7 separate regions of the Homo sapiens genome follow, and regions 2, 3, 4, 5, 6 and 7 are each linked to region 1. The links come from fine-mapping of genetic effects on gene expression. A gene starts in region 1. Each other region holds a variant in brackets. All regions are shown on one strand. Distances are between the middles of the regions. Region 1 holds the start of WASHC4 (WASH complex subunit 4). Region 2 overlaps APPL2 (adaptor protein, phosphotyrosine interacting with PH domain and leucine zipper 2). Region 3 holds the start of ALDH1L2 (aldehyde dehydrogenase 1 family member L2). Region 4 overlaps WASHC4 (WASH complex subunit 4). Region 5 overlaps ALDH1L2 (aldehyde dehydrogenase 1 family member L2). Region 6 has its middle 23 kb from the start of APPL2. Region 7 overlaps APPL2 (adaptor protein, phosphotyrosine interacting with PH domain and leucine zipper 2).

Evidence for each region. PIP is the estimated chance that this variant, and not a neighbour inherited with it, causes the effect. A credible set is the group of variants that fine-mapping cannot tell apart.
Region 2: its variant is the best candidate, but not a certain one, in a credible set for the expression of WASHC4 in spinal cord (GTEx, PIP 0.56).
Region 3: its variant is the best candidate, but not a certain one, in a credible set for the expression of WASHC4 in whole blood (TOPMed, PIP 0.77).
Region 4: its variant is the best candidate, but not a certain one, in a credible set for the expression of WASHC4 in whole blood (INTERVAL, PIP 0.60).
Region 5: its variant is the best candidate, but not a certain one, in a credible set for the expression of WASHC4 in whole blood (INTERVAL, PIP 0.76).
Region 6: its variant is the best candidate, but not a certain one, in a credible set for the expression of WASHC4 in spinal cord (GTEx, PIP 0.68).
Region 7: its variant is the best candidate, but not a certain one, in a credible set for the expression of WASHC4 in caudate (GTEx, PIP 0.54).

What each region holds. Positions count from the first base shown.
Region 1 is chr12:105,105,549-105,109,548 of GRCh38, reverse strand. It overlaps WASHC4 (WASH complex subunit 4), which reads right to left and starts at 1,818. Exons shown (of 33, transcript NM_015275.3): 1 at 1,688-1,818. The coding sequence starts at 1,748. LOC414300 (a long non-coding RNA gene) reads left to right here and starts at 1,907. Exons shown (of 2, transcript NR_121211.1): 1 at 1,907-2,761. RefSeq lists silencers at 1,270-1,519, 1,730-2,009 and an enhancer at 1,550-1,709.
Region 2 is chr12:105,195,135-105,199,134 of GRCh38, reverse strand. APPL2 (adaptor protein, phosphotyrosine interacting with PH domain and leucine zipper 2) reads left to right here. Exons shown (of 21, transcript NM_018171.5): 11 at 1,182-1,370; 12 at 3,508-3,550; 13 at 3,634-3,690; 14 at 3,786-3,874. Among named protein-coding and RNA genes, the nearest start is that of APPL2, 39 kb to the left of the region's middle. The variant C/T (reference allele first, on the strand shown) is at 1,830.
Region 3 is chr12:105,082,302-105,086,395 of GRCh38, reverse strand. ALDH1L2 (aldehyde dehydrogenase 1 family member L2) reads left to right here and starts at 1,938. Exons shown (of 23, transcript NM_001034173.4): 1 at 1,938-2,007. The coding sequence starts at 1,960. RefSeq lists a silencer at 1,631-2,060 and enhancers at 2,561-2,800, 2,295-3,095. The variant A/C (reference allele first, on the strand shown) is at 2,362.
Region 4 is chr12:105,158,962-105,163,055 of GRCh38, reverse strand. It overlaps WASHC4 (WASH complex subunit 4), which reads right to left. Exons shown (of 33, transcript NM_015275.3): 29 at 2,908-3,055; 30 at 211-307. Among named protein-coding and RNA genes, the nearest start is that of WASHC4, 53 kb to the right of the region's middle. The variant C/T (reference allele first, on the strand shown) is at 1,654.
Region 5 is chr12:105,075,665-105,079,758 of GRCh38, reverse strand. The region is part of intron 1 of ALDH1L2 (aldehyde dehydrogenase 1 family member L2); the gene reads left to right. Among named protein-coding and RNA genes, the nearest start is that of ALDH1L2, 6.7 kb to the left of the region's middle. RefSeq lists a silencer at 514-808. The variant C/TGC (reference allele first, on the strand shown) is at 1,719.
Region 6 is chr12:105,257,622-105,261,715 of GRCh38, reverse strand. No RefSeq gene overlaps it. Among named protein-coding and RNA genes, the nearest start is that of APPL2, 23 kb to the right of the region's middle. The variant G/C (reference allele first, on the strand shown) is at 2,210.
Region 7 is chr12:105,218,456-105,222,549 of GRCh38, reverse strand. All of the region lies in intron 2 of APPL2 (adaptor protein, phosphotyrosine interacting with PH domain and leucine zipper 2), which reads left to right. Among named protein-coding and RNA genes, the nearest start is that of APPL2, 16 kb to the left of the region's middle. The variant T/G (reference allele first, on the strand shown) is at 1,920.

The sequences.
Region 1 (4,000 bases):
TGCTGACAATAAACGGTTGTAAAATTGGTGAAAGTTAAAATAACAAAAGTTGAGATAAGAACTACATGGTAATTTTTTAAGAGTAAAAATTCCAAAAACCTACTTAACATGCTCATCTTTGTCAACAGACTGCACTCCTTGTTTTATCTTTTTATCCCTAATATCTAGCACAGCCACTGGTTGTAGAAAATATCTGTTGAGTGAATCAGACCATTCTACTCCAGGCTGAACCATTTTCAAACTCAATTAACATAACTCTATTCCAATTTTTTTTGAAGATACCAGTTCGTCATCTTTGTCCATAAAACATATATGACAAGGTACAGTTCACTTTATAACAATACAGAATCCCCTCCACAAAAAAAAATTAAAAGATTTTGTCATTATCTCCAAGGTTAATTTTTATGCTGCATAAGAGCTAATACCTTATTATCACCCAGGCTAGAGTGCAATGGCGCGATCTCGGCTCACTGCAACCTCCGCCTGCCGGGTTCAAGCGATTCTCCTGCCTCAGCCTCCCAAGTAGCTGGAATTACAGGCGCTCGCCACCAAGCCCAGCTATTTATTTTTTAGTAGAGACGGGGTTTCACCATGTTAGCCAGGCTGGTCTTGAACTCCTGACCTCAGGAATGTTTTGTGAAAAACTGCAACCCATCCTGGATGTAGCTCACTCTTCTCTGAGAGACTTGTAAAACCTAATTCATCTAACATTGTAGGCATTAGTCTCTCTTCGTAAATCAAGCAAAATTCATCCGGAATTTTTAAAAGCAACGTTCCACCTTTTGGGAAAACTATGAGGGAAAAAAAAAATCACAAACAGCATGCTCCAATCTCTCTTAGATCACTTACACAGATTACTATGACCAAAGATAAGAAGCAGATTGCCAACTTGTATTTATTTCAAGTAGAGTTTCACTACAATTAATTTGGCCTCAATATTTTACTGAAAGAAACACAATTTGTTTATTTCGGGATAGACTTCTAAGTTAAAATCAGACAATTCGATCTTGTGAAGCAAAATTTGAAGATTTGCTGTAATTTTTGAAGCCTTTATAACTGCGATGGAAACTGCAGAACATCACTGAAAAATATCACTTAGCATAAATAAAAGGCCTGGAAAATGATAAAATGACATTCACGTGTTTATTTTCGCAGGGTGAAAAGTTCTTTTTTCGCTCCCTTCTACGGTTATAGCAACGCGATGGGAAAGACACCCAAACTTGCAAAAGTTGATTTGGGAGGAAAAGAAGAAAAACAGGAAACCGAAACAGGAACCCAGACATCAGCGTCCTCCAGAGCTGAACGCTCAGAATCTGGCGAAATCCCCAAGAGGCCAGAGACAGAAGCAGCCTGGGATCCCGGGGCCGCTGGGCCTCCCGGGCGCGCCCCGCCCAAGCCCCGGGGCAGCTGAAGGGGGACGCCGCTCCCCGCGGGGCACCGCAGGCTCCCCAGGAGAGTCTCCGCCTCACACGCCGAGCCCTGAACGGGCAGCCTGACCCGCCGTGGCTGGGACCCCAACCCCGAAAGTAACGCTGGAGAGCGCGTCCCTCGCACACCCCAAGGGCTCTGAAGTGTCCCGCACCAGACGGCTGCGCAGCCGTCCCTCTCGCAGGAGCGCTGCCCAGCCCAGAACAGCGGCGGGCCGAAGGAGCGTCCACCCGCAGCCCTCGCCCTGCAGCTCCCTTACTCTGCGAGCCGTCGTCAACGCGGTCAAACTCCCAGTCCGGGGACAGAGTCTCCACCGCCATCACCCCGGCGCCTCCCACAGACACAGCCCCAACCAGCCCGTGCGGCGACGACGGCCTCACCCCAGCTACTGTCACAGCACGTGACTTCCGGCCCCGGCCCCGCCTCCGCTCGCGAGGGCCGGCCGGGCTCGTTGCCCCTGCGACCGCGGGGGCCCCTGGGAAAGCGAGTCCTCCGCCGTGGCCGAAGGCGGCCGCCATGGCGCCGGCAGTGCCAGCGGGCGTCTTGCGACCCGGCTCGGGCTTCGCCACCATTCACTGTGCTTCTCAAGCCACTTCGGCACTCTAATTTCGCCCTGCTCTCTCTAGACGATTTTTAATACCTGGGAAAGTTACTCCCCAGTCTAACCTAAAAAGGTAGAATTGATGGGGTGGGGAATTAACAGGAAGGCATGATCCTCGAGGATAACGCTGACCAGGCGCTTCTTCCAACAAGCCTGTTTCCCTCTCTGTCGCCACCGTAGGAGTTCCTACAGCTCTCCCGCACATTCTGTACGGATTGTTTTTTAGTCAAGACGTTCTGTGCGAGAGGAGAAGTTACTTTATGAACACCCTAACAGGGGATCTTACGACCTCTTCCCCGCTCTCCACTCAGTCCTTTTAAAAACGCGAGGCAGGATGAAGAACGCTATTGAAGTACATTCTAAAATGATCCCACCTGCAATTTGGATTTTTGGAGAATCGGGATCGGTGTAAAATTCTACATGCATACACGTATTTGCACAAGAATATTTATAGCAACGTGGTTTTTAATAGGAAACTATCTAAATGTTCATTACAAGTGAATTACATAAAGCTCAATACATCCATACTACGAATCACTGAAGAGCTGCTAAAATAGATGAAATATATTTATAATGGCATGAACAACCGACACAAGACAGTTGCAGAGTAATGTGTATTTGTGATTACATTTATGTTTTTAAGTTATACAAACGCGTATGTGCCTACGTGTATGTAAATTCATAGGAAGACAAATCAGAGGACGGTGGTTACCTGGGGAAAAGCATGTGTTGGTGAGTAACAGGATTTTCAAGTTTTGATGTGTCTACTTATGTGTTTTGAATCCTTAACAATGAGAATTTATTAGGGTTTTACTCTTGTAATCTTAAAAAGTACCGAAAAGAACTAATCAATGTAGGCAAAAGGTCTATTGAAGAGCATTCTTCTGAGGTCATTGGATCTGCCCTGAGTTAAATGTTTATTGAGTGCCCACTGGGTACCAGGCACCAGGCTAGATGCAGAAACTATAAAACATGTAAGAAAATTGCTTTCTGACCCTATGGCAGACTTAGTGGGCATTTCAGAAAGAAAAAAAAAATCTTGAAAAGAACAGGCATCCTTAGGGTCTAATGGCTGACAAACTTTTTTCCTGTACTTTCTGTGTGACCATGAGTTTGACTTTCCTGGATTCTTAACATTTGCATTAAATCACTGTAATTAATCTCCCAGCAGCTCATTGTGATAAATTGAACTTACAAGTCAGAAAAATTTGAGTCTATAAATACACTAATCTATTAAAGTTAATAGATTAGTAGCAAGAGGCAGTGTCATGTAATAATTGAAAGCACAGTTTTGACTGCCAAATTGCCTAGGTCCAAATCCTGGCTCTGCCACTTACTAACCATGTGATCTTGGGTCACGTAATTTAACCTCTGCCTCAATTTCCTCATCTATAAAATGAAAATAAAATAAAACTAGTAAACACCTTGTGGGATTCTTACGAGGACTAAATTAGTTAATACATATAAGGTACATAGAACAATACCAACCACATACTGTACCAGGTTGCTATTATGAATCAATATAGATTTATCTTAAAAAGATCTCAGAAGTCCCAGATCTCACAAGTCCCAGTGTGGTGGCTCATGCCTGTAATCCCAGTACTTTGGGAGGCCAAGGTGGGTGGATCACTTGAGGTCAGGAGTTTGAGACCAGCCTGGGCAACGTGGTGAAACCCTGTCCCTACTAAAAATATAAAAATTAGATGGGCATGGTGGTGCCTGCCTATAGTCCCAGCTACTCTGGAGGCTGAGGCAGGAAAGTCGTCTGAGCCACTACACTCCAGCCTGGGCAACAGAGCAAGACTCCATCTCAAAAAAAAAAAAAAAACTCAGGGATTTTCTGTCTTGATCTTAAATATGTTTAAATCAAATTTCACAGCCTATAATTTCAAATTTTGTTAGAGAATTACAAATTAGATACCAAATAGAAAAGCACATTCACTAAATGAAAAGTGCTATCTGAAAGTTATT
Region 2 (4,000 bases), 90 kb before region 1:
TGGTCACTGTGGCCATGTGCAAACAGACCACTCTTAACTGTTGCCGTCCTGGACCACTGACAGTTTTTATCCCCTCATGCCACTTCCCCCACACCAGCTGGCAGATGAGAGCCATGTGCTGGAGACCTACCTGCAAGGCCAGAGGCAAGGTCAGGAGGCTTTTAGAGTCAGTTCGATTCATACTGATTGAGTCACACATTTACCACTCAGGTCTTTAAGTGTCCGTTTTGAATGGAAGGGATGATCAGGTTTAAGTATTTCTGTGAGCAGAGAGGATATTGTCATGGTGTGGTGTGAAAAGCACTGACTTTGGAATCAGACATCCCAGCTGGGCTGAGCCTTGATCTCTTCATCTGTAAAATGGAGCTGATAACTGCACCTGCTTTACGAAGTTAGATTGAATGTGGTCATCCCTCCCAGGCAGTGAGCACTCAGATGTCAGCCGTTGCCATTTGGGGAAATTATTGGGGCAGGAAACCCAGTGCCTTTGGACATAGTTGCTACTCAGTAAATACTGAGCCAAGTAAATGTGTTTGATAACCCCCAGTGGAGGGTCCATGGAGAGGAACTGCCAGCTGTTACCAGGCTGGAGTACCTCTAAGGTCTGTGAACTTGCAGCGATCACAAGCTAAATGTCCCCTGTAGTTCTGCAGATGTAGAAAACCTACCGGGTTCTGTCGTTATTTGCCAGGAACTAGATTTTCCTTTTGTAAGCTGCCCACAAAACAAGAATGACCTTCAATTACAGCAAAATCCAGTCTGTTGAGAGCCTCCTAGGACTATGGGGTGGGTGCTGTGGGCTAAGGCAACCCTGACTAGATTCAGAGCAGCTCAGCTCCAGGTGTCAGAGAAATGATTCTCCAGGTGTTCAGTCCTTAATGGTGTCGGACTCATTCTAGTTGCATCTCCTGGTTTAGTAGTCAGCATGTGGCTGTGGTGCGGGGAGTCGGCCCTGGGACTGGTGTCTCCCTTGGAAGCAGAGCCCATGATCTCCCAGATCATTCCAGCTAAATTGTACCCTTCTGCTGCTCTTTCCACTTGAATGGGCAGTTTTGCTTTAACGATATAAAGAAACACATTATTTCTAAAATGCCACCAGTACCCATAACGAGGTAGCAAGACTTGGAGGTGGCCGCTGGTGCTTTCTGGTACTAATGGGCTTTTTAAAACACAACTCACAGCAAAACAGGGCTGGTCACCACCACCTGGGAGAGGCTTTATTTCTTCACCCAAGGCGGGAATCTCATGTGTCAGCCCAGGGGAGCCGTGGCTGGAGGTTTGATCCAGGACCTGGACAACTGCTCAGTGATGGCCGTGGATTGCGAAGACCGGCGCTACTGCTTCCAGATCACCACGCCCAATGGAAAATCGTATGTTTCACGCGTTTTATTTGGGAGGAGAATGAGTATAGTGGTTCCACCCGTTCCAAGGGCCTCCTAGTTCATTCCTATGTGCCAGCCCTCTGTGGGAGAGGCCCCAATCTGGGTATTGTTGACCTTTCAGGAGGATGATTTTCTGCTCTCTTTAAACAAGCCCGCATGACCCATAAGGGATCCAGCCTGCCTTATCCCATATGGAGATAAGTGAGGGTTTGTCTGTGGCTTTGGAGAAGAGATGACCTACGTGTGTGAGACAGCAACAGAAGTCGTGCTTGTTAGCATAGATTCTCAGAGAGAGAAGGCTGTGGCTACTCCTAGCCTGTTGTAAAGAAGCATTTGTGTTTGGATTGCAGCAGGGGAGAGTAACTATTTTGGTAAGGACGACCTTCCTGAGAAGGCCATTTTTCCAGCAGAAGCAGGAGTTGTGAGAAGTGTACTCCACTGCAGCAG[C/T]ATCGTCGGCTGCCAGGCTGTTCCCACATGTCCTGTGTACCTGAGGGGCCCCAAAGAGGTGGTACTTTACCAATCCGCAGGCTGTGGCCATTCACAGTAGATCCCATCCCAGTGGGATCCCCTCTCAGAGTGGTGGTTTTTAAACTGCTCCAAGGAGTTCAGGGTCCCATGGAGGGGCTTCAGGGTCCCATGGAGGGGCTTCAGGGTTCACCTGCCTGGGGAGAGGAGTGGCCCTGCCCGTCATCAGAGCCGCTCTTCTCACACTGCATTCTATTAAGATTTGACCTGAACAGCAGGGGTAGGGGTGGGGACGGCATTGGGATGATGTCTCTCCTCCCAGCTTGGCAGAGCAGCTTTAGACCTCATCCTTCCTGCTTTGGTGATGGGAAATGACCTGGGAATGGAGATTCCTGGATGCTCATCATGGTCCTTTGCAGTTACCTCCTCTGGGCCTCACTTTCCTCAGATATAAAATAGGGATAAGATCTATGTTACTCCATCTGCCACAGATGAGAGGAACAAGGGAACTGGCAGATGTGGGGTCTCTTTAAAAAGTTAAAGCCTCGGCTGGGTACAGTGGCTCACGCCTATAATCCCAGCACTTTGGGAGGCCGAGGCAGGTGGATCCCCTGAGGTTGGGAGTTTGAGATCAGCATGACCAACATGGAGAAACCCCGTCTCTACTGGAAATACAAAATTGGCCGGGCACGTTAGTGGTGGCGCATGCCTGTAATCCCAGCTACTCAGGAGGCTGAGGCAGGAGAATCGCTTGAACCTGGGAGGCGGAGGTTGTGGTGAGCCGAGATCACACCATTGCACTCCAGCCTGGTGCAACAAGAGCAAAACTCCATCAAAAAAAAAAAAAAAAAAAAAAAAAAAAGAGTTAACGCCTCCACAAAGGTAGGGCAGTATTACTGTTACCTTATTCCCGGGCCTCCATACGCAGCAGACTTTTCAGTTCTGGGAAAGGAGTGAATGGGCTGCCAAGTCCTTCTTTGGGCATGGTTTGAGGAGTGGCTGGGCTTGGAGTCCTGGTCATCTTGGATCATTAGAGGAGGTCAACAGGTGGATCTCACTGTACAAACACAGATTTGGGCTAGAAGATCCGAGTCCCGCCTTCTCATTTCATAGATGAACATGCTGAGGCCCAGGGAAACGGCCATGTTTGTCCAAGATCACATAGTGAATCAGGGCAGAGCCAGACCTACAAGCCCATTTTCTTTTTTCTTTTTCTTTTTTTTTTTTTTGTTTGAGATAGGGCCTTGCCCTATCACCCAGGCTGGAGTGCAGTGGCACAGTCACCACTCACTGCAGCCTCAGCCTCCTGGGCTCGATCGATCCTCCCACTTCAGCCTCTCTAGTAGCTAGGACTACAGGCACACGCCACCACGCCCAGCTAATTTTTGTATTTTTTGTAGAGAGGGGGTTTCACCATGTTGCCCAGGCTGGTCTCGAACTCCTGGGCTCAAGCCATCCTCCTGCCTCACCTTCCCAAAATGCTGGGACTGCAGGCATGAGCCACTGCACCTGGCCCTGGAACCCCATTTTCTTTCCCTCTCATCATGCTGCCTTCATGGCACTTTTCCTCCCACACCCCAGCTAAGTTCAGTTTATGTAGAGAAATTCCCAGTCACTGAGATCAGGGAAGCACTTAATTACTTAGACACTTTTGTTTCAGGGGAATAATCCTCCAGGCTGAGAGCAGAAAGGAAAATGAAGAGGTAAAAATTTTGTTTGTCATATTTCTTTCCTAACGTGGTGGGTGACTTTGGGATTCAGTGTTCTTTTTTAATGTCCTCTACAGTGGATATGTGCAATAAACAACATCTCCAGACAGATCTACCTGACCGACAACCCTGAGGTAATTATCAGCCACCGGCATCTCAGCCCTTTTCTCAACCTGGAAGGTAAGCGTCCACCTCCTGGGACTGAGTGTGTCTTCCTGTGGATTTTTAGGCAGTCGCGATCAAGTTGAATCAGACCGCTCTGCAAGCAGTGACTCCCATTACAAGTTTTGGAAAAAAACAAGAAAGCTCATGCCCCAGGTAACTAAAGGACAAAGAAAAACTAGCTTTTGTGGAGCCAAATTATTGATTAGGAATACGAAATGAGTTGTTGCTTAATCCACACAAACCAAGGCATGTTTTTCAGCCTGTTTAACAGAAGCAGTA
Region 3 (4,094 bases), 23 kb after region 1:
AAAACCTTGGATGTTTGTTGCAATTCTCCAAGTTTTTTTTTTTTTGAAACAGAGTCTCCCTCTGTCGCCCAGGCTGGAGTGCAGGGGCGCGATCTCGGCTCACTGAAAGCTCTGCCTCCTGGGTTGACGCCATTCTCCTGCCTCAGCCTCCCAAGTAGCTGGGACTACAGGCGCCCGCCACACGCCCGGCTAATTTTTTGTATTTTTAGTAGAGACAGGGTTTCACCGTGTTAGCTAGGATGGTCTCGATCTCCTGACCTCGTGATCCGCCCACCTCGGCCTCCCAAAGTGCTGGGATTACAGGCGTGAGCCACCGCGCCCAACCGCAATTCTCCAAGTTTTAATGATGGTTCTTTTTTGTCTCCTTACTCTCTTAAACACATTCATCCGTTTCAACAAGTTTTTTTTTAACAAGTTATTTTTTATTTTATTATTATTTTTTTAAAGCTCTGGTTAGTGCTAGATACTGTAAATCCTGATTAATCAGACATGGACTTAGCTTGCAAGGAGCTTCCAACAGAGACGTTAATAGGTATACAAATACCAGTAGCAGATTGAGACAGCCATAACAGATGCATAGACAAAGATTATTTCCTGTTAAGAGGAGTGAACAATTATTTATGGGGAATAAGGAGACTAAGAGAGAAAAGAATCAGAAAAAAGCGCCTCCAGGAGGCAGCATGTAAGCGGTACCTTTCAGAAAAGAAACGGTCGTGCCAAGATAATTACAAGTGACAGATGACAAGCTTTTCTGGGAAACATTGTCCAAGAAGGAATAGGCAAGAACTGCAGTCAAGCAGAATTACATATGCAAAAGAGCAGTGAGAAATAAGAGAAAATGGCAAATTGCAGACGGCCCTGAATGCTGGGCTAAGAAGTCTGGCTTGAGATAAACGTCCAGCTAAAGCAGGTCTGAGCGTTTTTTCCAGAGAGGTGAGGGAGAAGGGCACGTATCTATTAGGTTGATGCAAAAGTAATTGCGGGTTTGCCATTATTTTCAGTGGCAAAAACCACAATTACTTTTGCACCAATTTATTTATTTATTTTTAAGACAGAGTCTCGCTCTGTTGTCCAGGCTGAAGTGCAGTGGCATGATCTCAGCTCCACTGCAACCTCCGCCTCCCCGGCTCAAGTGATCCTCGTGCTTCAGCCTCCCGAGTAGCTGGGACTGCAGGCATGCGACATCACGCCCGGCTAATTATTTTATTATTTTATTATTTTTTATTTTTAGTAGAGACGGGGTTTCACCATGGTGGCCAGGCTGGTCTCGAACTCCTGAGCTCAGGCCATCTTCCCTCCTCGGCCTCCCAAAGTGCTGGGATTACAGGCGGGAGCCACCGCGCCCGGCCTACCGTCCTACGAGGTAGGCATCAGGATCCCTCCACAGCGAAGGCGCCCCCACTACCTATCTGTCTACAGGCGTGCCTTTTACGGGCTGTGCTATGGACAGCACTTGGGATGTCAGATTGACCACTAATAAGGTAGATCCGTATACACTGCTGCGGGGCTGAGTAACTGGTAGAGGGTCCCACAGTTAGAAAGCACCTGGACCTTGGCTGGAATTGGCGGAAAGTCCAGGCAGCGGAGAGGCGCGGTCCCTGGGACTGGGTGCGCTCTTGGCACCAGGGTCAGGGCCCACAGGCTCCAGGAAGCCCACGCGCTCCGCCGGGTCGCACCAGGTTGGCTGTCCGAACGCAGCCAGCTGGCGGGGCGGGGCCTTCCAGCTGGGGGCGGGGTCTTGACAGCTAGGGGGCGGGGCCTTGCAGCTGGTAGGGTGGGGCGGGCCGCGGGCTGTGGGCTTTGGGAGGGGTGCGGACTAGCAGAGGCCGAGAGCGGCGAGCCGCGAGCCAGGCAGTCCGGGGCATCCAGACTGCAGGCCGCGCCCAGGCCGCGCCCAGGCTGCGCCGCCCGCCTGCCTCCCGCGCTGCCGCGTCGCCAGTGCTAGCGCTCCTCTCCAGCATGCTGCGGCGGGGCAGCCAGGCGCTCCGGCGCTTCTCCACTGGCCGGGTGAGTCCGGCCCGGGCGAGCGTCCCGGCTGTCACCCTGTCCTGGTTTCCAGACTCCGGGGCGGGAGGGCCGGGGCGGTGGGGCTGGGGATGAGCAGCGATGCTTAGACTTTGCTAAACACCAAGACAGCGTTTAAAACAAACAAACAAACAAACAAAAACAGAGAGACCTCAGAGGAGGGCTTGGGGAGGGTCCCGGATGGGAACTGGCACGCAGGCCATTGTCTTCTGCCGGGAGGGGGCTGAGGATGCAGTTTTTGGACGTGTCAAGTCTGGCTGGGATGGCAAGGTGGGAACAGTCACTTGGTAAGGAGGACAGAGTCTGCTTCCTTTCCTTTTTCACTTCAATCATGAG[A/C]TCCCTGGTCAAGAGCTGGAGCCATATGGAACCGAGACTGTCTCCTGGAGGAGGGGAGTATCAAGTCAATAGGGTCCTCGTTGGCGGCCTGGGAGGTGTAAGCGCTCGAGACTGGCACGCAGGGCCGGTTCAGATAATGGCACTCAAAGCTGATGGCTGCAAGCTCAGTATTCCTGAGCTGAGCTGCAGATGGCAAAATTTCTAGAATTGCCAGGCGCTGCAGAGGCAGCCACGCTGGAACACTATTCTACTGTAGCACAAGAACCGAGCTCTGGCCCAGCCCCGCGCCTTGGAATTGCATCAGCTCCTCCAGAAATGGAACCGAGAGAGGACACGTTGCACTGCGGTGCTGCCTTCAGCACCCAGGGGGCCTCGGGACTGTTTAGGGAAGAGAGAGAGAGAAAAAAAAAAAATAAAAACTGTCTTATGTATCGTATCTTTTATAGGAAGTACATAAAAGAATTTGCTTATCGATTCTTTTTCTCGGCCATGCCAAAGCCATATGTACATATGTATATATTCAGATGTAAAAAACTTGGAGGCAGAGAGAAGTCTTGAGTAGCACCAAAAACTGGCCCAAACTTGCATCAAAGGAAAAGCTTTCTGTATCCCAGACAACCCCAAATAATAAGAATTCGTTTTACTCTTTGCAACCAGTTCTAGTTACTTTGAGGTATAGTCACCTTTTATAAAACGAGGGGTGGGGGTGGGGAAGACCTGCTCTGCTAGGACTTTGGCCTGCTCTCCTGGACCCCTCATTAGCTTCCCCCACCACGTGGCACATGGGATCCCAGATGGATAGCACAGAAAGCAACGGGCTGTGCCCAATGCCTGAGCCTGTTTTGTTGGCCTCCTCTGTCAACACCTTTCACTGACTTGTCTTTTTTGGTGACCAGAAGGAAGTCTTGCAGAATGAAAAGATTTTGATAGTGCGGTTTGCATAAGATTTCAGTAATAAAAGGTAAACATCTCAGGTGGCAAATGGCATAAACAAAACTATGGATGTGGGGAAGAACTGGCGTGATCAGGGTCTAACTGTACGCAGGGGTGCATATGGAAAAGCAGTGATACTCATGGCTGGGAAGAAGACAGTTTCCTCAGTGGTCGAAAGGAAGCTACTGAGTGGTGAATGAAAAATGTGGGATGTTTTATCCTGTAGAAAATGTTCTGGACTGTGTTTTATAAGAATTATTCAAAATCAAACAGATACATGGCTGGTGGAAATATAAAATGGTACAGCCACTTTGGAAAACTGTTTGGCAGTTTTATATGTAGTTAAACATAAACCTATCATATGACCCCGGAATCACACTCCTAGGTATTTACTCAAAAGAAATGAAACCTTATTTGCCCGCATAGAAACCTGTTTATTGATGTTTCTAGAGGTTTTATTCATAATTGCCAAAAACTGGAAATAAATTGTCCTCAGCTGGTGACAGGATAAACAAGCTGTGGTATATCCATCCATACAATGGAATTCTACTCAGTTGGGGGAAAAAGGAATGAACTACTGATGCATACAACATGGATGGAACTCAAATATGTATGCTAAGTGTAAGAATCAGACTCATAATGCTACATATTTTATGATTTCATTTATCTGACATTTTGGAAGAGTAAAACTATAGGGACAGAAAAAAGATCAGTGATGTCTGGAGCTGGAGATAGGAGGAAGGATTGATTATAAATAGGCATAAAGGAATTTGGGCGGTAATGGAACTGTTCTACATCTT
Region 4 (4,094 bases), 53 kb before region 1:
GAACCCAGGAGGCGGAGCTTGCAGTGATCGTGCCACTGCACTCCAGCCTGGGCAACAGAGCGAGACGAGACTCTGTCTCAAAAAAATAAAAAAGAAAAAAGAAAGAAAAATCTATAAAGAACATATAGACCTATTCTCAAGCAGATGTTTCTAAGAATCCATTACAAGGTCAATATAAAATTAATGGAAAAACAATTCCATTAAGCTTACCCATGGCAAAGCCATCATCAGTAAAGGCAGCTCCAATTTTATTTTTTTTATTTAATTTTTCCTTGCAACTAATGGAATGCTCTACAAAGTTGAGGGTCTAAAAAGATGTAACAACATGTTAGAAAAACAATTTTGCTAAGAAAATCTTCAGAATTCCTATAACAGACATTTTAAAAATTATAAATAGAATCACTATAAATAGAATAGAATAGAATCTAGATTCCTGTCCTTTTCATCTGAAACATTTGCCTTAGGTACCCTCTTGGTGAAGATACAATCTATACAAGTGTATCTTCATGGATCTCCTTTCCAAGTCCTTTAAATATGGGCACTCCCTCAATCACTACTTAGCCCAAGAACAGTGCCTTGTATATCTCATTATAAAATATTATGCACATTTTACAGAGAAGGACACCGAGGCTTGGGAGATTTATTATCTCACCCAAAGTCATATATTAAGTGAATGCTGGAGTTAGCAAAGTAGGCCTGCTTTATTTCAAAGCACAAGTACTCTTAAAAACATATGCAAGACAGTCCTTACTTACACCTACCTAATTCATTCGAAAATACTATTTCTTTTCATGTTCTTAAGTGTGAATCCTCAAAACAGTACGTCTCTTGAAAATTCAGCTCTTCCAAAATGACTTATCTAATCATATCTTTTATTCAACAAAGATTTACTGAAGCTTACAATATACCAGGCATTATTAAGTACTTATGATTAAACAAATGATTTCTATCTAGAGTTCACAGTCTAGAGCAACACTGTTGGCAGGGACAGAAATGTGTATCTGCACCATCCAGTACATACAGTAAGCCACTAATCACAAGCGGCCACTGAGCACTTGAAATGAGGCTAGTGTGACTGACAAGCTGAATTTTTAATTTTTAAAAAGGTATTTTTATTTTTTTCGCCCTGCCTTATGATTTTAATTTTATGAAATTTTAATTAACTTAAGTAGCCACATGTGACTATACATGGATAGCACAGCTCTAGAAGAGTAAATGCAGAAGTGTTTAAAAACTAATTATGATATACAGTGTGCTAAGTACTATAATAGCCTACGCTGGAAACAAAACCAAGTTTCATTTTTTTGACTGTGAAACTTATTCAGCAATTAATCACCTGTTTGTGAATTTTTTATCAATCATTAATTCAATCTTTTTTAGAAATCTCATTTATGCTTGTCTTTTTTCTGGAACTACACTACAAACACAAGTACAAGAACAGTATTCTATACTTCTTTGTAGTGCTTTTAATCCACTTTGTTTTCTCCATCACTAAGCGAATTCTGACAACTGCCTTGTAAAACTCCAGACTTTTTCCTAAGCTTACCAATGGGTTAACTGCTGTCTACAATGGTTTGAGTACATTGCCCTTCAAATTAAAAAAATATGGTGAGAACTCACCCCAAGTTAACTATAGTATTACCAAATATGACA[C/T]TCTCCCTCCAGTTTGACACTATCTTAAGATGAAAAGATTCTTACAAGATGAATATGAACATTTTTTGCTATATCATAGTTAAAATACAATTATGATAGAAAATTAACAAATGTATAAAAGAAACAAAATTCATGGAAAAAAGCTGTTTATAGGCTATTAGCTACTTTCAATAGGTAATAATGGTTTTAATATGTAAGAAGATGTGTTAACAACTTGGGCAGCAATATGAAAAGTCACTATTCTTGATCAAAATTAAATATAATAAAGAGCTTCATCTGCTGGGTGATATTTAGATTTTAAAGCTATCTACTTACAATTTTTTTTAAACTTTATAGGAACCTTAAGCCAAAACAACTCTTATTACTAATATATACCTCTCAAAAATTCTTAACTCCATTTTCCCTAATGGAACAGCTGTTTTTATAATGCAATTTTTGATAACTTGAACTATTTTTAGATAGCAACTACAGAGTTAGAGCAAGAACACGTTACATACTCTAAGAAGCATTAAAAATTTAGTCCAGATGTTAGTATTTACTACTGAATAGAAAGAAGTTATCTTGAAACAATATGCTTTAAGAAATGTGTTAGAAAAAACTATAATAACAGCTAAAGTTATTCTACATTAAGCACTTAAAATGATTATATATTAATAATTCTGCCCAAAGATTCTATGGCATATACTCATATAACTTAAAAAATACTCAAATTTCTCCAGTAATTATTTAAAAAAAATAAGAATCTATCTTAGGCCATACGTGGTGGCTCATGCCTGTAATCTCAGCACTTTGGGAGGCCAAGGCAAGAGGACTGCTTGAGCCCAGGAGTTCAAGACCAGCTTAGGCTACACAGTGAGACCCCATATCTTAAAAAAGAAAACAAATTACCAAAATTAGGCATGGTGGTGCACACCTGTAGTCCCAGCTACTAGGGAGGCTGAGGCAGGGGGCTGGCTTGAGCCCAGGAGGTCAAGCCTGAGTAAGCCATGATCACACCACTGCACTCCAGCCTGGGTGACAGGGCAAGACCCCATCTCAGAAGAAAAAAAAAATTTAACAATAAGAAAGTGTCCTTCAGCATGGCTAACAAATAAAAAATTCTATGTCACATTCACTGAGATCACATTTAGTTTTATATGCAACCAGGAAATTAATAGTGTAGTCTGTATGCATTTCGTGTTACAAAGAAACCAGATCTATTTGTGCATACTCTTTTTAAAAAAAAAATTCATTTTAGGTTCTGGAAATACTCACCAGAGGGGGAACAATTATATAGAAATTTCGGAGATGTATATTCTTTGGCCTTCGAAATTCTGGAGCAAAAACGTCTACAAGCATTTTGAAATATTCTGTGCCTTCGGCAGAATTTCGTGTGTGATCACTGAGGACTGAATCCAAATGCCTAAAAAGCAAAAAATTATTTGGTTCCTTTCTCAAAAGAAGCGTGGCTTTGAAAAAAATCCATCTCTCAATAGTTTAGATAAGAACACTTGAAAAGCAGGAAACACTGTAAGACACTTCTAAGAAAATTTTCTTGGAGTTCAGAATAAACTTATTTTCTCATGGACAGAAAACTGATCAATATTAGTAAATTTAGTCCCAAAAATAGACTATTAGAACATCTTGGGACTTAAAATAATAGTTCTGTATTTCTTCTTCCCACAGTGAGGCCTGTAGAACTCCTCTTCATTGTAAATATTTCCTCTTCCCCTTAAATCTCTAACGTTTCTCCTACATCCCCTTACCTCAACATAAACCTGGCTCTTTTTTTCAAGAACTCAGTTTCCCTCTCAACCTTCAAAAACATCAGCTGCTTTTTCTCCTGCATCCCTCATGTACAGCTACTACCACTTTCAATTATTATTCCTCCACCACTGTAAGAAAGAAATCTTCCTTTGTGACTCACATAATCCAACTATATCTAACTACCCAAATACTCAACTACTTCTTCCTAACAGCAGACATCTACTAACCTTTTAACCACCGTCCTACAATTACGCAGGATTAGGATGCCTGCTCCAGTTCTCCCCTGTCTATGCAGATAATCTATTCATTATCATGACCCTACATTTCCTTGACTTCAATCAACCACTCCCTTGCACCAATCTGGATCTTCCAACTAGCAGTCAGCTTTACCCTAGAGATCTTAGAAGACAATATCCTACTCTCTGATTTCCTCACACTGCTTCAAAATATTTTTTAAATGGTCAACACTTTCGGAGTGAATGGCATCATTTAACATAAGGTAAAGGTCTGATCCTTTCCTTTGAGACACACATCAGAAACTATTTAAACCATTTTCAGGCACATGACTTCAAATGGCTTAACTTTGTAAATGGCTTATGTAATCTGGCAAAGAGCTTAAGCTATCTAACAGACTATTCCAGAGCAAAGCTTCTGTGCTGGGGCCTTATTCTCACAGAAATGCATGCATTTTCCCA
Region 5 (4,094 bases), 30 kb after region 1:
GTCTTATCTGTGATCTTTTCTTTTCGTAAGGAGCTTGTGTGTATATGTAATATGTATAATTAAAAATTAATTTTAAAAATTTTATACAATTAAAATATTATAGTAAATTCTGTGCATGGAAATCCTGCCTCTCTAGTACTGGAGTCCGTTTCTGGACTCGAGCCCTTTGGACTGTCTCTCCCTTTACTCAAAGTCTTTGAAGTGTTCTGTGGTCACCAGCCTCGGCCCAGGAGCTCTCTCCAGCCTCTGAGTCCTGGGCATCCCCCTCTGGCATCACCTGCTCATAGGCCCCTGTACTGACATCCCTCCTTTTAAAATATTTTATCCTTTTTATGATGAAAAAACAAAAGTTGGCCAGACATCCAAGAAAGCCCTCACTGATATCTTCTTTATATAATGAGGCAATAGGAACATCAAGTTGCGCAAGCTTGCCATTTAGGATGGTATCCTGAATCTTGCAGATCTACCTCTATGTAAAGTGTACTTGTTGCTTCTGTTAGTATGAGAGTTTGTTACAATTGGTTGCAAGAGCTTTCACACTATTCCAGACTATATCCTGTGACTATGCTACAGGTGGATTGCTAGGTCAGCTTTGATTTTCACGCTCTGCTCCATTCTCAACACAAGAGGTGTGTCTACCCGGAGCTAGTTCATGCCTCCAGAGTTACCTAAGCAGTCTATTAGCATAGAAACTAGACTCTCCTGGTTTCAATTAACTCTCCTGCTTAAAGCGGCTCAGTGAATCTCATTGTCTTCACAATAAGGTCCCAATTATTTGACACAAAGCGCTCCATAATGTCTCTTGCTACGGTGTCGCTTGTCACCACTCCTTAACTCCCAGTATTGGACACGCTGTGCACATGCATTTGTTTCTTTGTAAATACCGCACCCTCTGCCTGGAACTTCCCAAGCCTCTCCCTTTTCTCTGCCAACTCCCAAGATGGATTCTCTAAGATTCAGCTAAGTAACTCCCTTCTGGAGAAGGCTTCTCGTCTCTTAACCAAACTGTGCTCTCTTATTCTAGCACTGTTACTATGTCTTAGCTTGTGTGCCCTCCCTACTAGTTGGTGGATTCCCGAGTACAGGGACTGCTTCTTTTTATCTTTAGTGTAAGGGTCGCAAAGAGAAATTCCCACAGAGGCCAAACAGGTAAAGCAAATGAGAGATTTGAGCTGCATAGAGGGCAAGACCATGTCTAGGGTAAAGGGGCCACCACTGCTCAGCGCTAGCTGACTGTTGCTATACGGCGCCACAGACCAGGGTTGACAAACCTCCTGAGTTTTTTTGATTTTTGTTTTTTGAGACAGAGTCTTGCTCTGTCGCCCAGGCTGGAGTGCAATGGCGCGATCTCAGCTCACAGCAACTTCTGCCTCCCGGGTTCAAGCGATCCTCCTGCCTCAGCCTCCTGAGTAGCTGGGAATACAGGCACGCGCCACCATGCCCAGCTAATTTTTTTGTACTTTTCATAAAGATGGGATTTCACCATGTTGGCCAGGCTGGTCTTGAACTCCTGACCTCAGGTGATCGGCACCCAGCCAAACCTCCTGAGTTTTAAAGACAAGTTAGAAGTTGTGCCTTCTGAGGTGCAACCTCCTAAAAATCTTAACAGAGTCCTCTTAAAAATGCTTTGTGGGCCAAATAAAACACCCCTGCCAGGCCAGTAATGTGCCACCTCTACCATGCACTACGCCCAGAGTGTGGCAAAGCCTGAAAACATG[C/TGC]TTGTTGGATGAGTCTTGCACAGAGTCAGGCACAGTTTGGGGCACTCTGTGCCGGATGCTCCATGAAGTGTTAGGCACCTCAGGGTCTCAGGAAAATGTACTTTGTTTTATTCTTTTGTGTGAAGGTCCTCTGTGTGAAACTGCCAATTCTTACTTGGATAGCTTTGGCCTTACTTTACACCCTGCCCAGATGGTTCTATTAGCATCTGGCCAAAGGGCTTCAGATCAGGGCAGACTCTTCGCACTGTGCCTTGAAGTTTTCTTTGGAAAGCTATGTGTACCTTTTTTTTTTTTTTTTTTTAATTCTTGGAGCATAGTCAGGGTCTGTATTAACTTGCTTCCTGAAGAATTCCACCAGAGGGTGGACAGCCTGGGAATGCATTATTTGACAATTTGGAAAGCAAAGGCTCTGCTCCCTGCAAAAGTCTCCTCTAGTGAAGAATGTTCTCTCTAAAGAAACAAGGTCGGGCGTGGTGGCTCACGCCTGTAATCCTAGCACTTTGGGATGCCAAGGCGGGTGGAGTGCCTGAGCTCGGGAATTTGAGACCAGCCTGGGCAACACGATGAAACCCCATCTCTACTAAAATTAAAAAAAAAAAAAAATTAGCTGGGCATGACGGCGTGCGCCTGTAATCCCAGTTACTTGGGAGGCTGAGGCAGGAGAATTGCTTGAACCCGGAAGGCGGAGGTTGCAGTGAGCCGAGATGGCGCCATTGCACTCAAGCCTAGGTGACACAGTGAGACTCTGTCTCAAAAAAAAAAAAAAGAAAAAAGAAACAAGATTAGATTATAGAACTTATCATCCAGATTTGGAAATGACTGTGTGTCATTTTATGCCCTTTCTCACTAATGCGACAGACACCTATAGTGAGAGCCGGTTAAAGAATGGTGCTGTCTCCCACGTCACTTCCACTGTGGCATTTCCTTAAACAGGCTGATGGAACTATTCCCAATTGACCTGTCAAACTGTTGCTATGTTTTTCTTTTTCTAAAGTAGGAGGGGAACTTTCAGCATAGGAAAGCCTTAGAAACACATCTGCTAAAGTAAGACAGATCCAGGTTTGAATCCTGCCCTGGACCCTTATTAGCTCTGCCCTTGGGCAGGTTACTTAACTTTCTGACCCCTTTGTTTTCTCATTTGCAAAATGGGTCACTGGGGGGATTAAAGATGTATAATAAGCATTTGATAAATACTTTTTGAATTAATGAAAAGGGCTCAACATAGTGTTTGGCTCATGGTATATTTCCAATAGGAAATATCTATTATCATTATTTGTAGGTACCTAGGTATTGCTTATGGTATGATAATAATAATAGGTAACATTTACTGAGCATTTACTATTGCCATGCACTGTGCTAATGCATTACACACTTTATCCCATTGAATCCTTATAACAACCTTATGAGATAGGTACTATTACTATTCTGATTTTAATTGATGATGGAAAATAAAGCCCAGTTCAAGACTGCACAGCTGGTGTATGAAAAAACAATAGGCACTAGGATAATAAACAGAGTTGGAATCTCAGGGCTGCCTCTTAGCAGCTATTTGACTCCTGGCTACTTAACCTCTCTGTCTTTAATTTCTTTATCCCTAAAGTGGGTTAATAATGCCTGTCTCCAGGAGTCATTGTGCAATCAAATGAGATAATAATGTGAAATACTTGGCCCAAACTAGGGTCTCATTAAAATGTTTGCTCTTATTTCCACCATTTCTTCCTGACCGAAACTCCCCAGGGCAGAATCTTGTTCTTGTGGGCAGACATACCACTCTCCACAGAGCAGAGATTCTCAGACTTCCATGTACTTCTGAGTCACTGAAGAGTTTGTTAAAATGCAGCTTCCTGGGCTTAAGATTCTGAGTCAGTAGATCTGAAGTAGGGCCCAGGAATCCACATTTTAAACATGTTCTCCCAGTTACTTCTGCCAATACAGGCAGGCACCACACCTGGAGAAATAAGACTGAAGTAAAATAGCCTGTAATCCTGGCACTTTGGGAGGCCAAGGCAGGTAGATCACCTGAGGTCAGGAGTTTGAGACCAGCCTGGCCAACATGGTGAAACCCTGTCTCTACTAAAAATACAAAAATTAGCTGGGCATGGTGGTGTGTGCCTGTAATCCCAGCTACTAGGGAGGTTGAAGCACAAGATTCACTTGAACCCGGGAGGCGGAGGCTGCAGTGAGCCGAGATTGCACCACTTCACTCCAGCCTGGGTGACCATGGAGTGAAACCCTGTCTCAAAATAAATAAATAAAGTAAAATATATCAGTCCAATTTTCTGGAATCTTGCTAACTCATTATAAACATATTTATAGTCATGAAATCTGAAAACTTCTCAGTGTTAGAAACTCACCTTTATAGCTTCAGCTTCAGTG
Region 6 (4,094 bases), 150 kb before region 1:
TGGAAGGTACATGTCACATGCTGGATGGTACATGTCACATGTCGCAGACTCAGCTGTACTACAGATGGCTGGATAGGTTTTCTCTTCTTCCCTGGATTCTGATGAACTAGAGTTACTTTGTTTTCTTTTAGGAAGCAATGCCTTCAAAATATTTTGCATCCAGTTTTGACATATGATGGCTTCCATATTTATAATTTTAGTTTTGTAACAGCACTGTCCCTGTTGTTTAAATTGTTATCCAAAGGCATGATGAAAGACATCAAGACTTGTCACAGTCAACTCTAAGTTTTCTCAGGTTGTACATGTGAGCTTATATGTACATTGGAGCAAAATAGAAAACAAAGTGTAATTTGAAACCTTATATGTACGTAGTGTAGGAAATAACTATATAGTTATATATATGCAAAAGTCCATATGCAAAAGAGGTTTAGTAACTGAGGGAACCAAACGTTCATAGGAATGAGAAAATCTGAGCTGCTTCTATAATAATGCCCCATGGCTTTGCTAGGCTACTTAACTTCATAGTTTCATTTCCCCATTTGTAATACTAAACTAGGTGAGATTGCTTTTATTGCCATTATTAAAGCTGTTTTTCAGGATCTCTGGTTACTCTCCTAATGAGATTTTTAGAGTTATTTTAGCATAAATTTCATATCAGGCATACATTAGCTTATTCCACAGTACAGTATGTTTAACCTGTTTCTAAAAATGGGACCCTCTGCCCATTAACCTTATGCTAGATTTGTTCTTCAACAGGAAAAGTATCCAATATTTCAGAGGAAAAATTTGGACTATAGCAATAAATGGCCTAGCCATGTTTTACTATTGAAATTAAAAAATAACCATTGTATTCCATTCTTTTTTTTCTGGTTCCTTGGGTGCACATAGATGGGAGGAGGCAAAGTACTTTCCCTCTCCATTTTTTCCTAATTCTTTGCTTGAATCCACATATTTGAGCCAAGAACCTCTTGCCTATAGCTGGGAATGCACCCAGCAGTTGATTTTTGGCTTGTATCTGCTTGTTTCTAAGAAAGTCCTCTTTATTCACCAAGGTCCCAAACAAAAGCTGTTCTCTGTTAGACCTTTCCAGACCATCCACCGTGACCCTCCAGAAAGTCACTCATCCCTTCCCCCATATCCAATAATACTTTGAAACTACCACTGGTACAGCACAGAAGCCATTATACCACTTTTATTTAGGGAAGAACTGTTCCTTATTTATCTTTGCATTCCCAATGCCTAGATTTATTGCATATGTATCAGTGTCAGGCATAATGCTAAGTCATGTTATTATTGACTGAAAAGAATACAGTGAGGTTTTAGGGACCTCACTTAAATTCCTTGAATGTAATGAATATAATAAGGAGAAGTGGATGAGTTTGTGCAGCAAAGACTGATTTCAATATTCATTTTCCATTTCCTCCATTGTAATAGAACTCCTGGTTTCTGGCTGGACACAGGGCAATGCCAAGATAAAGACTGAATTTCCCAACCTTCTTTGCAGCTAGGTATGGCCATGTGAGTCAGTTCGGTCCAATGGGATATAAGTAAAAGTCTCATATGGCAGCTTCTGAAATCCTCCTTAAAAGAGATCTGGCAAATACCGTTTACTATTTCTTCCTTGCCCCTTTCTACTTTCTGCCTGGATTGTAGATTCAATGGCTGGAGCTGAGCAGCCTTCTTGGGCCATGATGTAACCTATGGAGGTTATATGATGGAGCTTCGGGATAGAAGGAGCCTAGATCCCTGAGGACCTCATGAAGAAAAGCTACCACATTAGCCCTAGATTGACAATTCTGGACTTTTACGTGAGAGAGAAAATCTGTGTGTTTAAGCCATGGTTATCCAGGGAGTAGGGAAGGGGGCTGTGCTACTAACATTGAACCTAATCTTGATACTGGATTGGGTTTTTCTGCTTCTTAGACAAAGTGTTTTGTAACAATCTCAAGCAACAACAACAAAAACCTTCCCTCAAAGGTTTAGATGAGGCATCTGGAATCCTTAAGCTAGAAAACTAAATTTATTAATATCACTGATTGCCCTCCCCCTAATCTTGGGCAAAAGTTAGTAGGTTTTGTTATTGCATTCTTATTGTATGCCAGAAATGATAGTATGCTTCACAAGTATGATTTTATTTTATCCTTGTAAAAACCATATGAGGTAGGGACTTGTATCATCTTCACAGTAGAGATGCTAAGTAAACAGCTGT[G/C]AGTGATCAAACAGGCCCAAAGAAAGGGCCGACTTCCCTCCTAGTCCATGCATTAATCACTGCTGGACCCTCACTGCAGGGAGGGGCTAAGGAGAGACCCTTCCTCTGTCGGCGAGGGAGCTTTACTTGCAAATTCAGTGAGCAACAATGTGGCAAATGCCAGATCATCAGGGAATGGAATTCTGCTATCAACAAGGTGACCACTGTGTACACCCCCAGGAGAAGAAGGAACTGGTTTAGGAGCTTGTCTGCTGACATCTCTATAGAGAGTCAGAGGCTAGTGAAACTCACCTCTTATGAGGAAGTCAAGGAAGGACGATGGGTCAGGAGAGAACATGGGATGGATCAAGTGGAGTGCTGCAGCACAGGCAGAGGTTGGGGAGGTCTGCCCACAGCCTAAAATGACCTCAGCCATAGAACCAAAGTCATACATAATGACACAGGCACACAGAAACCATAGAGCCAGCTTCACATTTGAAGACTGGAGAGTGAAACACCCACAAATTCATATTTAATATGAAAAGCATTCAGGAAAAAAAGATGTATACATTTTGCTACCCTGACCTCAATAACAACCCCCCAATCATAATGAAAAAGTAATTCACTCCCTTTTTATCATCTATGGTATAAACACTCATTCATTCCAGAAATATGTATTGAGAGACCACTCTGTGCATGGGCTGTACCAAGCAGGGCCTGGGGCACACGGTGGAAGGAGGGCCTCCAGCACAGTGCAGTCAGGTGGGAACACCTGCCTATAAAGAGATCCTTATAGTGCAAGGGGCCACATGCCATATGGAGGTATGTAAGGGCTGGTTGAAGCTTAAATGAGAAGCATTCCACCTTGGGGTCAGGGAAGGTCTCCAAGGAAGATGATTAAGTAGGGTCTTGAGAGATGACTTTGACATCCCACAAAACAAAAAGAAAAAAAAGGAACTCATGCTGGTTAATATAGAGGAAACACCCTCTCCCTCATAGACAGCCTACAGTAGCTCCAGGGATAGCACTATTCATGTTAGAGAATCACAATTCATGCTTATAAAAATGGCCTTAACACACCAAGAATAGAATGTTACATTCTGTCTACTCTGTTTAATAAGGCTAAGAAGAACAAAGGCACTTTTCTCCCAAGATTTTCTGATCCTCCTCAAAAGTATTTTTTAAATAACAAACTGACAATTCAGTTATATGGGGAAAAAAACATTGTATTCCTAAAAATGCTACATCAAAGGAATCTTTTCACAAGAACACTCCTTCTCCACATATTTCCATTGCTCCCATTTTTCTTAATTAAATATTTTTAATGATTACAGGTACATAATAGGTATATGTATTCATGGGGTACATGTGATGTTCTGATTCAGGCATACAATGTGTAATAATCACATCAGGGTAATTGGGGTATCAAAGACTTTTCTTCAATTACATAGCATCCCAGAAAGCAAGATTCAGGTATAGAATCACATTTTCAGGGCAGTTCAGTGTGGTGGGCAAAGCACAGGCATCAGAGTCAGCTAGATCTGAGCCCAAATCCCAACGCCACCTCCAAACTTGTCATGTAAGCCTCTGTTTCCTAATACACACAATAAGAATAATGATACATGCCTTGCGTGGTTGTCGACCTCAATTATATAAGCACCTAACACAACATCTAACATACATTAGGCCTCAATGTATGGCAGTTATCATGGTCTATGATTGTGTTGCTGTTGCTGTTACTCTATTCCAAGCATTCCAAAATGTTGTACTAGATAGGCAAAATTGCTATAGAACAATTTTCCAGCAGAGATGGACAATCCTATCTGCCTCATTTGAATCTTCAGTGACCTTCTGGGTGAGCAGAGTGACTCACAGAGCTATGACTAAGAGCCAAGTCCTCCACGGT
Region 7 (4,094 bases), 110 kb before region 1:
TCCCCTCCTCAGTTCCTTGGCTGAAGGCACCGTTCTCCATCTGGCCTTCCACATGGGCAGCACAGTTCTTTCTGACTCCCCCGCCTTCCTCACTCACCACACCCTGCTGTTTCTGCCTCAGGAATACCTCCATGCCCCGCTCTGCACTGTCTGCCTCAGGCTCAGACACTTGTTTATCTCAGCTTCTCCAAGTGGCCTCCTGATCAGTCCCCCTCATCTATTCTCTCTCCCACTTCAGTGTTTTCTTCCCACCACCACCACTCCTGGTTTTCTTCCACCCGTGCCTGAGCTTCTCATACTCCTGCCTGAGTTCCTTGGTGCTTCCCCACTGCCGCTGGAATAAAGTCCAGGTCCAGCAGGCATCCCCCCGTGGCCTGCCTCGCATGAGACGCTCCAGCCGCGTTCTTGCCACACCCCTCACTACTCCCTGTGTGCATCCTGTCTCGAGGGGCTCCTGAACTAGTGCGACCCGTGACCGCCAGCTTTGTGATAAACACTGGGTACTGAATGTGACTAGGCAACATCTCCAGCCAAATAGTTGGTATAGATCGATGTGGATTTCCTCCACCCCACTCTCTAGCCTCTCCATTCATATTCACCGTGGATGCTGCTGCGCACAGAGGCCCTTGGGGGTTTCAGGTGACAGTTGCATTTAGTTAGCGTTCTGTGCTACAGAAAGATAAACATTCCTTTGCCAAATGCCCAGTTTTCCTTTCAGGCTTGCTAGCCACTTGATTTTCTGCCTTGGCAACAGCCCCGGGAGGTTCTGTTGAGCATGGGAGATGCTGTCAGCAAACCCTCCTCAGGGTGTCCTTTCAGGGCTTCTCACAAAGCGGTGCATAGTGTAGATGGCAGCCAGAGCGGCCCAGAGTGCCCAAAACAATGCTGCTCATGGAACTCCATTGAGAATTCCCACTTTAGCCCACGTCTTTTGCTCTTCTACCACTAGAAAAGTGTGGGACTTAGGTTCATATCTATGGGCCCTACAGGTCCTGCCCACCTGAGTATTGAGTAGGTGCAATTTTGGACTTTAGATTGGAATAGCATAATAGTCAGAACATGAGCTTTTGATTTCGAGTCCTGCATTAAGTTGTTGCCTGCCAGTCACTAGTCATGTGGCTTTAGAAAGTTATTTATCCTTTCTGAAGCTTAGTCTCCACGTTTACAAAATGGAAATAATAATAGTATCTACTTCATGGGTGCACTGTGAGGATTAAATGTGATAATATATGAAAAACATTTAACAGCAACATCAAGCACTTAGGGCAGACTCAGGGTTAGCAGCTATCTTTATTGATGTTATTGCTAATATTTACTCCTCACTCGGGCTCCAGTTTTGCAAGTCCTGTTGTAGAGATATTTTTGCAGGCCTACCTCACAGGGCACAGGGCGTGGATTAATTAGCTGATGTTGGTAAAGCATTTCTTACAACCTTTGTGTACAGTAGCTTAAGTATGAGTAAGATTAAAGTTGATCTCTTTTGAAAGACTTTTCACACAATGTGCTCTGTTCAGGGCAGGTGACAGGCTGTGTTGTAAGCATGTTGGTTTCCGATGAACTCATACTGGCTGCACAGAATCATAGTTGGTCTTGCACCCTGAAATATTACACATAGGAAAACACGCAGCATTTTCAAATGGTATTCCTAGGAGAGACCCAGAGAGTCTGGTTGTTCGAAGTCGTTTTGGAAGGCAGCTGTTGTGTGTTGCACGCTGTGCCCCTTCTTCCCTGAGCGGAGGTGGAGCTGTGTGGCTGTGTGAGTGGCACATGAGTGCTCTCCCCTTGAGCTTTGGGTACAGCCTGATGCTGGCAGTTCCCTGGCAGGTCTTTCCATTACATTCGGAGCATTTGCCAGTAAGCTCTGAGGAAGAACTTGAGTGGCCCATGGTCCCTGCTTGTTTGGAAGGCCTGGAGGGTGG[T/G]TATATGTGTTGACCAGTCTCTGAAGGAGGCATATATGGGGAAGTAACATATTAGAGTTGACTAAAATAAAGAAAAGAATGAATTAGAAGAGTAGAAGCTCCTGGGATCTGAAATGGTGTAGCTTAAGAGAGCCTCCTGCAGAGGGTGTGGCAAAAGAATGGGTCTTTGAGACATCTGATGACAAAGCAGGATCAGTAATCCATGGCTCTTGGGCCAGCATCTTATTTTTGTAAATAAAGTTATATCAGAATGAAGCCACATTTACTTGTTTATATGTTATTTCTGGCTTCTTTTGTGCTACAAAGCAGAGTTGAATAGTTGTGGCAAAGACCATATATGGCCCACAAGCCTAAAATATTTACTCTCTGGCTCCTTACAGAAAAAGTTTGCCCACCCTAGTGTAAAGCAGAGGCCTTCTCCTCTCCTGCCTTGTGGTAGAACTTGGGATCTCAGTAGCATTTAGGAGTGTGGATTTTAGAATCGGACAGCTCCAGGTTCACATCCCAGCCCTGCCACTCATCAGCCGTGTATCCTTGCACAGGTGGCTTAATCTCTCAGTGCTTCAGTTTCTTCATCTATAAAATAGAGTTATTAATTAGAACCTGCTTTTACAGGGTCATTGGAATTAGATGAGGTCGTGCACAGAATGCATTTAGCATAGGGTCTGGCATGAATGAAGCCCTCTGTAAATGTTAGCTGCTGTTACAATGATTCTGTGGGTCTGCAAATCATGTTCCACATGGTGCTGCCCTCAGGAACATGCCAAGATAGCTTGAATGAATCCATCTGCTGCTAACTCAGAAAGAAGGAGCACGAGATTTTCAGTCATAGCTGAGTATCAGCCCAGTGAGTGAGATAAGACCTTTGTTTCCATGCACTCTGATCTTCAAAACAACACTGCTAAAGATGGTTGACAGGTAGTAGTCTCTGGCCAATTGCTTTGTATTTTATTTCATTTGTGATGTTTCCTTGTACAGTTAGGAAGGATTTTAAAACCCTTACACCATGATTTCAGGTATTGTTTTAAACTTGGAATTTAGATGAATCTTCTAATCTTGTTCATTCATTCATTCATCAAACATTTGTTGAGGGCTTGCTGTGTGCTAAGAATTGTTGGACGTTCCTATCTGAATGAAGGACATTGTGCTTGTGGCTTTGTCCACTTGCTGACTTCCTGACTATGTGGCTAGAAGTCACATTTCTGGTTAGTTTTGAAAGGGGTTGAATACCAGTAGGATGTCAGAGCCAGGCACTTTTGTTGTATTTGTCTGACTTTCTTCTGAGGAAAAAGAGCCACGTTTCCTGGTCTATTAATGCCTATTCCTTAGGGCAGAGCAGGAAGTCAGGGAACAGGTTGGCCAGTTGTCTGCGAAGAGGGTCAAAAAAAGGTAGGACTTGGCTCTACTGTATTCTGCCAAATAGGACTGGGAAAAATAAAATAAGCTCCTGCAGAGCTCAGGACTTAGCCTTAAAGGAACAACAACCCCAGGAGAAATAGCCAGTGGAGGCCAAGGCCAAGGAGGTAGGCCAGTGTCCTCCCATCATCTGTGCCATGTCAGACCCAGTGGCTCTGCTCCTTAGGAATAAACCCTGAATCTTAAGCTTTAACTGAGCTTTAGAAATGTAAGGCAAGTTTTCTAGGCTGCCCACATCAGTGGTAGGAGGATAGTGGTAGAAAACCGCTGTGTAGCCAGAGATTAGAGGAATAAACAAGAGGAGAGGAAAATGAGCAGTACGGGCTGGTGAAAATGGCACAAAACAGGCCTCCCAGGGCATCGCAGCTCTTGAAGAGCAGTGTTTCCTCTGGTTTTCTGGGATACTTGGGTTTAGCTGTGCTTCTGTTACCATCCATCATTGCCAGCGAGTGTTCTAAGCCTGGTGGAATCTGACCTTGTCATATGCTGCTTCAGTCCCCACTGTGCTTCCAGTATGTGTGAGCCTGGGCCCCGGGGGCCTGCACACCTTCCCACTGCCTCATTCCCAGCCTGATATCACCTCCAAGCGCACAGCTCTTGCCCCAGCCACGCTCCACTTCAGAGCTGTTCAGACAGGCAGTGCATTTCTTCCACGTGTTGGCGCCTCCTGGAAAGCTCGTCCCCATGGCTGACTCCTAGTTTGTCTTCAGAACATCTGTTCCCTGGAGACTGTCTGTCAGAGCCTCCCAACACAGCCAG